Homo sapiens: one gene and its partner. The protein of the gene in region 2 purifies or fractionates together with the protein of the main gene of each other region. This does not show direct contact. Each region holds a gene or a part of one and is shown on either strand. Other genes may lie near its edges. The genes, in order: CPVL and LETMD1.

Region 1 (7,321 bases), on a different chromosome or scaffold from region 2:
GAAGGGGAAATTTTGGTTCTCAAAAAAATTAAAAAACCAAAAACATCCTTGACTGAGGCAGGAAGATGACCTGAACCCAGGAGTTGGAGTCTGCAGTGAGCTAGGATCATGCCACATGCACTGCACTCCAGCCTGGTTGACAGAATGAGACCCCATCTCTTAAAAAAAAAAACCAAAAAACAAAAAAAAAAAAAACAAAACAAAAAACTTGACACTTGAAATGAAAGAAAGTCATGTTTTGAGCAGCATAGAGTTAGAACATTCTTTTTTTTCCTAATATTGGATTATAAAACATTTTAAAACATAGCAAATTCGAAAACAATTCATATAGTGACGATTTTGAGTCATGAACTTTCACTTTACTTGCTTTCTCACATAAGGGTGCCTCTATGCATCCCACACCCATCCACTAATCCATCTTATATTTTTGACACATCTCAAAGTAAAATGGGCATGTAGTGCACTTCCCCCACACACTTCAGCATCACATTATTCATCAGAGTTCAACATGTGTTTACAGATTTTCTTCTTTTGAGTCAAGTTAAGATACAATGAAATGCGCTAGTCTTAAGTGTAGACTCACCAGTTCTGACAAATGCAGACACCTACGTAACCCAAGCCCTTGTTGGGTGATATAAAGCATTCCTAAAACATCTCTAATGATGAGATCCAATCAGCAAAAGGGGACTGGTCTCTGTACTCGTTAAGCCTCTAGCGTCAGCTAATATTCCAAGTAGAGGGAAACGGGAAGCTGTCATGATTCAGTGCCAAAAGGGCAAGGACTGACACTGAGTGTTGGGAAGTTACATGCAGGAGAGGTCAGCCTGGCCTGAGATGTCTCGTTCCATATGTGGAGAATGGACAGGAGGTACCAGTGCATGAAGTGAATAAACGTATGCAAAAAGGACATCACTTTCAGTAACTTCTAGCTGCAGAATCACGATCAGCAATTAAAGGTCACCTTCACAAGGCCCTTCCTAAGAGGCTGGGTTCTTCTACTTGTCTCAATCTGAAGGAAACTGAGGCAGAAAAAGTATATTTGGATAGTACATTTATTATATTGAAAATCTGCCCCTATATCCCAACACCCTCCATCTTACAACCTTGACGTGCAGTAAGTAGGATTAACACTATTAGATGATATTTACCTTGCAGCTCGCAGCTATACAAGCTGTGCACTGAACAACTACAGGGAGCACCATTCACATGAGCATTGAGATGACTGAGCTATTTGGAATTATTCAGTGGCTTGTCCAAGTCACACAATTGTTAAGTGAGATAACTAGCTAGAACCCTGACTTCTGATGCAAACACCGGTGTGGTGTTTTTAATCAAACCCTCTACTCAATCATTCCTTATCTTTGAACTGAAATTTGCAGCTTAGTCACGGAACATTTTTATTCACCTCTCAATAGCCCTCTGAGGTTTATTGATGAAAAAAATTATTGCAGATATAAACATAATTTTCTGTATTTTTGTATTTCACATATTACAGTGAGGGAGGCAGATCCCATTTGCAGATGTGGGACCAGACTTAACTCTTTCACATGCAAATGTGAAACTTTTGTGTTTTGCTGCAGTTGATCAATGGTCATTTGTGCCTCACTGCAATGACTGTGAAACCCATCTACCATTTGTGTAGAAGCTTGCAACTGGAAACCCAGCATGCCCACTTTTTATCACAAACTGAAAGTAAACATGTGTGACAAGAACCCCTTCATAGGACTCCAGAGGGAAACTTTTGCCGCCCCGCAATCCCAGGCTAGACATTTCTTCCTGCAGATTTTCATCCATATCTTTGGCCCTGGCAGGAATCTGATGAGTGATTTCTGTGCAGCTTCAGCTCAGCTGAGGACACTTAACAAAGTCATATGTGTGACAAAACCCAGCTGCTTCAACTGGAAATGAGTTTGGCAGCAATGGTCCGGAACACCAATAAATTGAATACCCAAGAGCTAAAGGTCATCCTGCCCCCAGAACCAGTGCTGCAGCTAACAAAGGACAAACAAAGGATAGCACAGTGCTTCACAGCCTGGGCTCAGAAGTCAGAGTGCAGGAGCATGGCAAGAGGCACTGCACGTTGTGTGACCTTGGGCAAGGAACTTAACCTCACTGAGCCTCAGGTTCCTTTACTTTACAATTGGGAAACAAGTATTACCTCGTGGGGTAGTTGTGAGTTGTGTGAGGAGTTAGTGGAATAATGTCCCTGGAATACTTAGCACAGTGCCCGGCCTGGGATGGTCTTCAGTAAATATTGGTCATTTTCGTTATTCTTCCAACACTTATCTATATTGAAAATCCAGAATCAAAATGCCTATATCAGGAGGATTGCTTGAGATCAGGAGGATCGCTTGATTGCAGGAGTTTGAGGCTACAGTGAGCTGACTGAGCCACTGCACTCCAGCCTGGGCAACAAAAGGAGATCCCATCTCTAAATATAAATGAATATATATGTATATATGCTTATATGAACCTAAACTACCCTAGAACATGGTGTTCCTACATTTTCATAAAAAACCTTGGTTTAAAAAAGGTTGTTTAAAACAATGGTTCTTGGCTGGGTGCAGTGGCTCATGCCTGTAATCCCAACACTTTGGGAGGCTGAGGTGGGCGGATCATTTGAGGTCAGGAGTTTGAAAGAGCCTGGCCAACATGGCGAAACCCTGCCTCTACTAAAAATTAAAAAAAAAAAAATTAGCCAGGCATGGTGATGCACGCCTGTAATCCCAACTACTGGGGAGGCTGAAGCAGGAGAATCACTTGAACCTGGGAGGCAGAGGTTGCAGTGAGCTAAGATGGCACCACTGCACTCCAGCCTGGGCGACAGAGTGAGACTCCACCTCAAAAACAAACGAAAAAACAAAACAATGACTCTCAAATTTGAACGTGCATAAAAATACCTGAGCTCATTAAAAGAGATCGTGAGGCATCACCTCCAGACTTTCCAATTCGGAAGGTCCAGGGCAGGGCCTAAGAATTTGCATATCTAACAATTCCAAAGCAATGCTGATGCTGTTGTTCCAACTGCTTGTTGAAAACCACTGTTGAGAATTTTTTTCTACTCTGTGGCAAACCAGGGAATTCTCTGTTTACATCAAGGTAATTTGATTAACACCTACTCATGAATACAAGTAGAAATTTGTTTAATACCTACTCATGACCTCACTTCCTGGGTATCCGCTCTCCTGGTATTTACTCACGCACATGCGCACTCACACACACCTTCCCTGTCCATAATTATCAAGTGGTGAAGGAGCGCTGAAGGGGTCAGGTGTTCTTACTCTTCCTCTCAGTGACCTACCTGACCCTGGTCCAATTTCTGAGCTGCCATGTGTAATGACCCTAATGGCATTGTAAATTGTGTCATTAATATTGCGGGAAGAGAAAGCTTGTTAAGGGACAAAGTTGTTTCACATGCCACAAAATTCCCAAACAAAGCATATTCTTAAGCAGATTCACATACAGCATTTTACTGATATTAACTTCAAAAATAAATATATTTTTGAGTGTGGAAAAATAAACCACTCTTGTTTATAATCAAGCCACTCACCATTCACAAATCAAAGATAACAGACCACTTGGCAGCTTTTAGAGGTGAGTAACAAAATGTGTCAGGGCTGTAATTACGTATTTAAATGTGACAAGATTAATCTCAGGGCTCCCTGAATAGAACTGTCTATTTTGGGTGCCTCCACACTAGAGCTGCAGCCTCTAACTTCATGTGTTCCAGATGTTCCAGGGGGTCACAAATGTGTCATGAATTTCAACAGGGTTATACAAACACTTTAAAGCTTCATTCCACTTTATTTTTTAGAAAACAATATAATTCTCCCTGGAACTAGAAACAAAGACCTGCCAGTAAAGGTTTCCCAGTTGTGCCTGTTTAGATGACAGAAAAGAGAGGGAAGTTCACAGTGGGCTTGTTGATGTAGATGTGTCAGGGGAAGCTTCTTGGGGGTCTTGAAGGAGATCACTGGACGGAGAGTGGTGGGTGGGTGGGGTGGGGGTGGAGGGATCACCGCAGACAGAGGAAACTGTGTGTGGAAATGCAGGAGGCGTGGAAATGCAGGAGGCATGGAAATGCAGGGGCATGAAACTGTGGGCACGTGCAGCAGAGGGATCACCGCAGACAAAGGAAATTCTGTGTGGAAATGCAGGGGCCGTGAAGCTGCGGGCGCATGCAGCAGTCTGTATGTCGTCCCATTCATGCAGGAATAGAGGGAAACAGAAGAGACAGATGAACAGGCAAACGCTAGTGGGACCATGTGATGCCCCAAGTGACATGCTGGGATGAGTGGACCTTATCCTATCGGGCTTTAAAAGCAACTGTGGTAAAATACACTTAACATAAAATTACCACTTTAACCATTTTAAAGCGTATGATTCGGTAGCATTTAGTATATTCACACTATCTTGTTGCAGAATATTTTCACCACCCCAAAGGAAACCCATATACATCAGTAATCACTTCCCACTCCCCCTCTCCCCATCAGCCCCTGGCAACCATTAATCTGCTTTCTGTCTCTATAGACTTGCCTATTCTGGATATATCCTAGAGGGTTTTAAGTAGGGTAGTGACATGCTTATGTTTGCATTGTAGAAAAATGACTTAATGTCTAAGGAGAAGGCTAATTTGGAAGGGAGTCATACTGGTACAAGGAGGCAAATTAGGAGACTACCAAATCAGGTGAGAGGATGTGGGCTCATGGGAGGGATGGGGAGAAGGGGAAGGAGAAGAGGGTAGTAAGATGGAACCAATAAAATCAGTGATTAATCCGATATAAAGGTTAAGTGAGACTTTCTCTACCCATCCCCAACAAATCCTCCCCATTTCAGGCTTCTGACATGGGCAGATTTGCAAAGGTGGTGCTACTCACCAGGAAAGAGAAAAGAGCCACATGGGAGCTGCAAGTTTGGCAGGCAGAATATGTAGGATTGGTTTATTGTTTCTGCTTTCCAGTATAGAAAGATGCATACCCTCAAGAGAATCTGCTTGTTGTGGTTTCTGATTTACATGTAAGTTCTTTTCACTACTTTTATGCCATTCCACATTTACTAAATCTTATCTTTTAGTTTGCTTTCAGACACTAACTATAAGTAGAAATAACGTAAATAGCATTCAAATAAAAATATATTGAAAAGGTACTTGGGAACGAGAATAAAAAACAAGCCAAAGCTTGTTAGCAGACACTTCCTAACAAAGAATGCAATAAGTCACTTTCGAAAGAATGAAAAAACAGCAGAGATCAAGGCTGGGAGTTGCTTCAACAGCACTCAGGGAAACGATTCTTGAGGTCTCCCACTGTACACCTCTGGTGTAGCAAATGGTTATTGAATAGAATGAGAAAAGGAGCTTCTAGGTGCTTCAGGAGACCCACATGTAGCCATCATAATGGTACATATTCTAGAGCAGTTAAAACTTTTGGTGCTCCTTTACAACATCCCCAAGGGGCTTCCTATGTACACCATCTTAATCAGTTGCAACAATACTGTTTGTAATTTAGGACTTCCACTTCTGACTGTGACACAATAGCATGTACCAAACCAATCTTATTCCACAGAAAACAATAGAAGCTGAATTAAAAAGAAAATAAGCTGTTTAAAGGTATCAGAGAGCAACCAAGCCTTGAGAGAGGCCATGATCGTAGAGAAAAGGGAATCACAAGGAAGTGAGCCTAACATTTTGTGCTGCTTTTCCCTTTGGGAAATTCACCAATTTTTAAGCTTCTCTGACCAAGACGCCAAGTCAAAAGCGGCAGATAAGAGAATGAAAAGCTCATTAGTCTTACGGTGCTTGAGAGACCAAAAAACAAAAACAAAGAAAACCCCAAAAGAAACAACAACAACAAAAAATTGGAGTTGCAAGCCTGTCAAGGAGGGACAGCACTGGTAAGCACTGCAGGCTTTCCATCAGATCCGTGAAAGACAATGCCTTGGAAGTAATAACAAACCAGAAACAGGTTAGTCCTCACAAACCTTGAAATCAAGCACTGAATCAATCGTCTCAATCCCAAACTTTATCAAGGTGATATGCCTCTACTCTGTATGCCTTCTAGAAAAAATTAAATCCTTTTGGAAGAAAAATAACATTTTTCTTCATATATTTTTTGTACATTTTCTTCAACATTTAATAAAATTTAATAGGCATGACAAAGAACAAGAGCAATGACTAAAATTTAAGGAGAAAAAAAGATAACAGAGACCACAAATGATCCAGATATTAGAGTTACCAGGTACACATTTTAAAGTAACTGTGAACAAAATATGCAAGATGTTAGGTATAGAAAAATAATTCACAAGATAATTAGAATATATACAAGAGAATCAAATGGAAGTTCTTTAACTAAAAAGTTACTCATTCATTGTTCATTGAAATTAAGAACTCGATCGATGTTTTAGCAATAGATTAGGCATGCAGAAGAAACACTATATGAACTGGAAGTTAGGTCAGTAGAGGATATCCAGACTGAAGCATGGAGAATAAAGGTATGAAAATTCAAAAAAAAAAAAAAAGAAGAAGAAGACGACATGAAACCATGAAACATTTAACTTATGTTTAACTGGAATTTTAGGATAAAATGATAAGGAAGAAATGGGGCAAAAGAAACAAATAGTAACATTCAGAGATACTGACTGAAAAATTTCCAAAATTGACAAAAGTTACCAAGCCAGTTTTGAGAAGCTCTATGAATCCTAGATAGAATAAACACAAAGCAAACTAACCACATCATAGTACACATAATAGTATATTAGTAATAGTATATTACACTATAGTATGTGTATGTGCACACACACACACACACACACACACACACACACAGAGAGAATAGCATTTTGCTAAAAGCAAAGACAGAGAAAATCTTAAAAGCTGTCACAGAAAAGGAAACAGTACTTTCAGTACCTTCAAAGCAGCAAGAAAACTGACTATTCAACAGAAACAATGAAAGCTGGAAGACAGTGAAATAATATCTTGAAAGTTCTTAAATAAAATATCTGCCAACCTAGAACTTGTATAGAAATGAAGACCTTGTAAAGATATTTTCAAGGAAACAAAAAATTGGAAAAGGTTTTTGTCAGCAGACCTGCACTAAAAGAAGTACGAAAGACTGTTCTTCAGACAGAAGGAAAATTATCCGTAATGGAAACATGAAAATGCAGAGGAGAATGAACAGCAACTGAGAATTTACATATGTGAACACAAGTAAGGAGTATCAATAATTAATAATGTCTTCTGGAGTTTGAACTATGTAGAAGTTTTTCAAAAGACAGTACTTGCACAAAAAGGGTGTAAAGTGAGTTAAAGTGTTGTAAGGCAGCAGTC
Region 2 (7,321 bases):
GGGCAACAAGAGCGAAACCCCGTCTCAAAATAAATAAATAAATAAATAAATAAAGCACAGGATATTCCCCCCATAAGGAAGTGCCAAGGTTGGAAAATTCACACTAGCATGCATTCACTCTTAGGTTTCCACAGTCCCCACTACTCCCTCTTGTCTTATGGCCTACTTCGTTACCTGCCGGGCATGCAGTAGGCATGTGAGTTTGTGCCCTTTCAATTAGATGTATGTATATATATGTCTCACAGTACTCAATAATTAACTCCAAAATGACCTCAGAATAAAATACAAAAGTGACTTGGATTTTAGTGGTATAACCACAGAAATGTGTTTTACCTTTCAGGCTGCAGGAAATCTGCAGCCATTCTCCCAGCCAAGTTCGACACCTATCTTCACCAATATGCGTAGAATTCAGGCCACGGAGATAACAAGCCTATACCACTCAGAACAGAAATGGTCCTTAATAATCATAGAATGATTATGCCAAGGAAATGGAAATCCACAAACAATCCTAAATCTCCTTTAAATAAGTTACAATCTCACCGGGCACGGTGGCTCGTGCCTGTAATCCCAGCACTTTGGGAGGCCGAGGTAGGCGGATCACGAGGTCAGGAGTTGGAGACCAGCCTGGCCAATATGGTGAAACACCATCTCTACTAAAAAATACAAAAATTAGCCAGGCGTGGTGGCATGCACCTGCAGTCCCAGCTACTCGGGAGGCTGAGGCAGGAGAATCACTGGAACCTGGGAGGCGGAGGTTGCAGTGAGCCAAGATCATGCCACTGCACTCCAGCCTGGGCAACAGAGCGAGACTCTGTCTCAAAAAAAAAAAAAAAAGTTACAATCTCATTCCCACATGAAGCCTTTCCTCATGGCAATTTGAAAACTAGTGATGGACAAGATGACAAAAGCAAAGAGTCCTATATAAGCTAAAATAGTAGGTCTAAACTGCAGTATCCTTGCTTTCTGAAGTGCCAGAAGAAAAGAAATACAAACCAAAATTTCTGTGGGCAATTCCTTCCCCCTAGCTAAGTTTCTTGAGAAAAAAGACACAGAAATGAGGTGAGGAGCTGGGCGCAGTGGCTCATGCCTGTAATCCCAACACTTTGAAAGGCCAAGGCGGGAGGATCACTTGAGCCCAGGAGTTCAAGACCAGCCTGGGCAACATAGTGAGACCCTGTCTCTACAAAAATAAAAAATAATTTTATTTTATTTTTTGGGTTTTTTTTGAGACAGAGTCTCACTCTATCACCCAGGCTGGAGTGCAGTGGTGCGATCTTGGCTCACTGCAATCCACCTCCTGGGTTCAAGCAATTCTCATGTCTCAGCCTCCCAAGTACCTGGGATTACAGGCATGTGCCACCACTCCTGGCTAATTAAAAAATAATTTTTAAAAAGGCCGGGCACAGTGGTTCACGGCTGTATTCCCAGCACTTTAGGAGGCCAAGATGGGAGGATTGCTTGAGGCCAGGAGTTCAAGACCAGCTTGGTTAAAATAGTGAGACTGAAAAATAAATAAATATGCTGGGTGCGGTAGCTCACACCTGTAGTCTCGGCACTTTGGGTTGATGGATCTCTTGAGGCCAGGGGTTTGAGATCAGCCTGGCAAACATGGTGAAACCATCTCTACTAAAAATACAAAAAATTAGCTGGGCGTGGTGGTGCACACCTGTAATCCAGCTACTTGGGAGGCTGAGGTAGGAGGATCACTTGAACCGGGAGGCAGAGGTTGCAGTGAGCCAAGACTGTGCCACTGTACTCTAGCCTGGGCAACAGAATGAGACTCTGTCTCAAAATAAATAAATAAATAAAAATAAATCATAAATAAATAAATGAAGTGAGAGAATAAAGAAGCTGGGTTCTATAAACAAACAAGACAAGGAGCCCCTGTAAACCTCCGGCCTGCCATAGGCTCAAAAGCACACCAAGGGTTGAGGGTTGATGTTGCAATCAAGCTCTTACCGATTTTACTTCCTGAGCAGTCAGCTGGCCAATCCCCAGCTTTGCCAAAGCCTTGTCCAGTTGGTGAATCACAGTTGTATGAGTCTTCAAACGATGTCTCAACAAGGGAGGAGGCAGGTAAGATGTGAGAAGCATGGCCCGGCTCAAGGCTTTCTGTAACACAACCACATAGGAGGGGAAAGGCAAATAGTATGAGCTCAAGCAAACACCTGAAACATGGTGATGCTATGGAAAAGAGAAGCCCTCAAAGTGCTCACCACGTGCAAAGCCTGGAGTTGGTTCATGCCCAGAGGATGGTTAGAGAAACACTCTCTCAGAGCCAAGATATCATGTATTGCTGGGTGGGTACCACGCTGTATCTTGGAAGAGGTAAGAGATTTGTAGATGTTAGGAAAGTCCTGACTACTCCTCTTACCTAGTTTAGTGCACACTGAATCTAACAAGATTCCACATTTGTAGGAAGGGTTAACTGCAGGAATACCTTGGTGCACAGATCTGTCAGACGCCACCGGAGTCCTGCATCAGAAATGAGAGGGATGACCTTTTCTAAATAACTAATAATTTCTGGGTGGGACTGCTTCCGGAAAGCATGATAGATATCTAAGAAATCAGTTTGTTGTTTTGGGGTCCAGAAATGCCTGATCAGTAGTTGCCTGGGAAACAGGTACCTGAAAGGAGAAAGAATCACAAACTCACTTGCTGAAACTGGCTTCTTTCAGAGGAAGCCAAAGAAAGCATTTGGTAGACATGAATACTAGGAAGAAGAGATGGAGACACTATTTCCCTACCTCAGTGTTCTTTTTCTTTTTCAGTTTTTTTTTTTTTTTTTTTTTTTTTAAGAGACAGGGTCCCCTCTCTCACCCAGGCTGGAGTACAGTGGCAAGATCACAGCTCACTGCAGCCTCGACCTCCTAGGCTCAAGCAATCCTCCCACCACAGCCTACTGAGTAGCTGGGACTACAGGCACAGGCCACTATGCCTGGCTAAGTTTTTAATTTTTTTGCAGAGACGGGTCTTGCTATATTGCCCAGGGTGGTCTCAAACTCCTGGTCTCAAGCAATCTTCCTGCTTCAGTCTCCCCAAGTGCTGGGATTACTGGTGAGAGCCACTACAGTCAGCCCTTTCTCTTAAGTGACTCTCAGACCAAAGTTTATAAGACACACTGAAGCACAATTTCAAGCACCATTACTGAAATGGGATGTGAAAGGAAGGACTAGCAGAATAGCCTGCCACGCAGCAATCAGATATAATGACTCATTTTGAACTAAAGCATGTGAAGAGCATGCTTTGGAGAGAGTTGCAGCCTGACCAGGACACTATATGTGATGTTGACAATCTAACTATAGCACAGTCCTTATGTGGACCCAGTATGTAAAAGGCAACTGATTTGTTGTTTTTTTTTTGAGACAGAGTCTCGCTCTGTCACCCAAGCTGGACTGCAGTGGCGCGATCTCGGCTCACTGCAACCTCTGCCTCCTGGGTTCATGCGATTCTACTGCCTCAGCCTCCCAAGTAGCTGGGATTACAGGCACCCGCCACCACGCCTAGCTAGTATTTTGTATTTTTAGTAGAGACAGGGTTTCACTGTGTTAGCCAGGATGGTCTCAATCTCCTGACCTTGTGATCTGCCCGCCTCGGCCTCCCAAAGTGCTGGGATTACAGGCGTGAGCCACTGCACCTGGCCACGATTTGTTTTTTAATTTATTTATCTACGTGTTTGGTGGTTTTAAAACATGACCTCAAATTCTCTGGCACTTGTCTCATGGAGAGCTGAGGTCTACATCCTGCCCTTTTTTCATTCTAGGTGACTGATTCAATCAATAGGACAGAGCAGCAGTGACTCTATGTGACCTTCAAGACAAGGTTATAAAGTCATGTAGATTCTTACTAGAACCCCTCACTCTTGGAGCCCTGAGCTCCCAAGTTAGAAGTCCCACTATCTTGAGGCTGCCATACTGAAGAAGCCACATCTGGGCACTCTGGTTGACAGTTCTAGCCGTGTAGCCATCCCTGCCAGGGCACCAGACATAAGAGTGATATTGGACTTTCCAGACTAGTCCATTCAGCAGCTAAATATCACTAAGGGACCTCTGTCAACCCTATATGGAAGAGAGAAATCAACTGCCCACCTGAGCACTGCCCTAATTCTTGAGCTACAAAATCATGAAAATGATTTATACGATTGTTTTATGCTATTAAGCTTTGAAGTTATTTGTTATACAGCAATAGATAATGAATGACATGCAAGATCACAGTTAAGAAATGTCATTTTTGGATATGAAGTAATAAAAATGTTATCAGAATACGAAATGTACTTTTCCTAAAGAAATTAGTCTAAAAGTACTCTCTCTCGGGGAGAGAGCCTCTAGGGATGATGGAGAAGGTCACTATCTTATTTCACATGACTCAGGGCAGCTAAGAGATAGGGAGAGTCTAGGCCACCTACACTTATAGCTGTGATGTGTCACAGTAACCAAGGTCTTCCTAAGTGGTTTTTATGAACCTTGGAATAATGAGAAGATTGGAGCAGAAGTTTGATAACCTCTGCCTATCTTCTGAAATGAGTGCTGTTTAAAGTAATTCTTAATTTAAAAAAATTGATACATCTTCAAGATGTTGGGGAGATGGAAGTCTGTACTCACATTAGCAAGAAGACCAGGTAGTTGGCAAAAGGTGGAATGGAAATAATACCTAGGAAAAGACACTTGGTGACGTCTTGGCGGAACTAAGCAGAAATAAACACAGATGCAGTTTTAACCCAAATAAGTTGTTAATACAATAGACAATCCATCCACCCCACTGTACAGTAAACTTCTATTACAGCCCAGAAAAAGGACCAAATTTCTTTCTTTTTCTTTTTGAGATGGAGTCTTGCTCTGTCACCTAGGCTGGAGTGCAGTGGTGCAATCCTAGCTCACTGCAACCTCTGCCTCCTGGGTTCAAGTGATCCTCCTGCCTCAGCCACCCGAGTAGCTGGGATTATTGGCATAAGCCGCCACTCTAGGCTAACTTTTGTATTTTTAGTCGAGACAGGGTTTCACCATGTTGGACAAGCTGGTATCAATCTCCTGACCTCCAGTGATCTGCCCGCCTTGGCTTCCCAAAGTGCTAGGATTACAGGCATGAGCACTGCATGTGGTCCCCAAGTTTATTTCTATTTACTTCTGGATGGTTAGTTCCTTGAGGACAAAACCTCTGACTTATTTACTTTTGTATCCCAAATAATGTCTAGTACAGAGCCTGACATTATACCAAATCCTTCAGTGAACTCTTCCTGATCTGCGGAATGGGTCCTAGATTCTTACTCTCAGCTTCAAAACGACCCATCAAGTCACCACCAAATACTACTTTCATGCTGCCCTTTGGATCCTTGCAGACTTTTTTTTTTTTGAGACAGAGTTTTGCTCTTATCACCCAGGCTGGAGTGCAGTGGCGCGATCTTCACTCACTGCAACCTCCGCCTCCCAGGTTCAAGCAATTCTCCTGCCTCAGCCTCCCGAGTAGCTGGGACTAGGACTACAGGCGCCTGCCATCATGCCCAGCTAATTTTTGAATTTTTAGTAGAGATGGGGTTTCACCATGTTGGCCAGGCTGGTCTCAAGCTCCTGACCTCAGGTGATCCGCCCACCTCAGTCTCCCAAAATGCTGAGATTATAGGCGAGAGCCACTGTGCCTGGCTGCCCTTGCAGACTTCTATTTTCATTTTATTATTATTTTTTTTTGAGATGGAGTCTTGCCCTGTCACCCAGGCTGGAGTGCAATGGCATGATTTTGGCTCACTGCAACCTCTGCCTCCCGGGTTCAAACGATTCTCCTGCCTCAGCCTCCCGAGTAGCTGGGATTACAGGCGCCCGCCACCACACTCAGCTAATTTTTGTATTTTCAGTAGAGATGGGGTTTGACCTTGTGGGCCAGGCTGGTCTCGAATTCCTGACTTCGTGATCTGCCTGCCTCGGCTTCCCAAAGTGCTGGGATTACAGGCGTGAGCCACCGCGCCCAGCCCCCTTGCAGACTTTTGTTATGTTCAGAAACTAATTAGATTTTAGTATTTACAACTTTCATTCAGAAAGTGTGCCAGAAATTCTATGGAGCTCTTGCTATGGAGGGCTACAACTCTGGATGAACCCAATTCTTACAAATAATCTGATGCCTCATTCAGTTCAATATTTTGTTCTCACGGCAAAGGGCAAAAGCTTGATCAATGGTGAACAACAAATGAAAGAAAAAACCTTGAGATCTTGATTAAATGTAATTACCTCACCATGAACTTCTGGATATCTGCCCCTGGCCCATACCTGTCTCAAATGCTCCATCTCCCGGTATGGAAGTTGATGAAACTTTATATTGTGCTTCCACATATTTGTCTTTATTCTTCTAGCCTTTTTGGCATCAGCCCATAACATCTGCAATCCTGCCTCATTAAAGTAGAGGACAGAGTGTGATGTTATCCCAGTTTAAATCTTAACCACAGCTTCCTACTCCATGTTCAATCACATGCAAACACTCTCACCCCTCCCCAACGATACTCAAAGCTTTAAACTAGGTAACTTGAAACTCCTGAGGTCAACTCGAATCTCTTTTCTCAACATTTTTTCCCCTAGCACATCGCCTCTCTTCTAGCTACATTTGGCTTCTGTAATCTGCTATGGAATGGTCTCCCTCTTCTGTTTCACTGGTCACTCCTTTTTAAAAATCAAGCTCCCTAACTTCAGAAAGTCTTGCTAAATTAACCCTATGTATTCCCCAGCCAGATATTAATTTAATCTCCTTTCTGGAACTTTTTTTTTCTTTTTTTTGAGATGGAATCTCACTTTGTTGCCCAGGCTGGAGTGCAGTGGTGCGATTTCGGCTGACTGCAACCTCCACCTCCCAGGTTTATATAATTCTCCCACCTCAGAATCCCAAGTAGCTAGGATTACAGGCGTGTGCCACCATGCCTGGCTAATTTTTGCATTTTTAGTAGAGATGGGGTTTCACCATGTGGACAGGCTCGTCTTTAACTCCTGACCTCAAGCAATCCACCTGCCTCGGCCTCCCAAAGTGCTGGGATTACAGGCATGAGTCACTGCGCCCGGCCTGGAACACTTATTTTTGTTTTTGAGATGGAGTTTTGCTCTGTCGCCCAGGCTGGAGTGCAGTGGCGCAATCTCGGCTCACTGCAACGTCCACCTCCTGAGTTCAAGCAATTCTCCTGCCTCAGCCTTCCGAGTAGCTGGGATTATAGGTGCCCATCACCACACCTGGCTAATTTTTGTATTTTTAATAGAGACTGGGTTTCACCATGTTGGCCAGGCTGGTCTCAAACTCCTGACCTCATGATCCGCCCGCCTTGGCCTCCCAAAGTGCTAGGATTACAGGCGTG

The links.
Region 1: the proteins of LETMD1 (region 2) and CPVL purify together in Homo sapiens (affinity purification with mass spectrometry; 3 studies listed by BioGRID and IntAct, with this or other methods). This does not show direct contact.

Annotation. Positions count from the first base shown.
Region 1 is NC_000007.14:28,996,369-29,003,689, forward strand, and holds part of CPVL (probable serine carboxypeptidase CPVL isoform b precursor), read right to left. Parts: intron 5,017-7,321; exon of another isoform or gene 4,961-5,016; intron 4,688-4,960; exon of another isoform or gene 4,601-4,687; intron 1-4,600. UniProt on the Homo sapiens protein: May be involved in the digestion of phagocytosed particles in the lysosome, participation in an inflammatory protease cascade, and trimming of peptides for antigen presentation.
Region 2 is NC_000012.12:51,051,141-51,058,461, reverse strand, and holds part of LETMD1 (LETM1 domain-containing protein 1), read right to left. Parts: intron 6,375-7,321; exon of another isoform or gene 6,371-6,374; coding exon 6,255-6,370; coding exon of another isoform or gene 6,216-6,254; intron 4,685-6,215; coding exon 4,602-4,684; intron 2,628-4,601; coding exon 2,441-2,627; intron 2,319-2,440; coding exon 2,217-2,318; intron 2,113-2,216; coding exon 1,960-2,112; intron 457-1,959; coding exon of another isoform or gene 431-456; coding exon 334-430; intron 1-333. UniProt on the Homo sapiens protein: Plays an essential role for mitochondrial structure and function, as well as thermogenesis of brown adipocytes.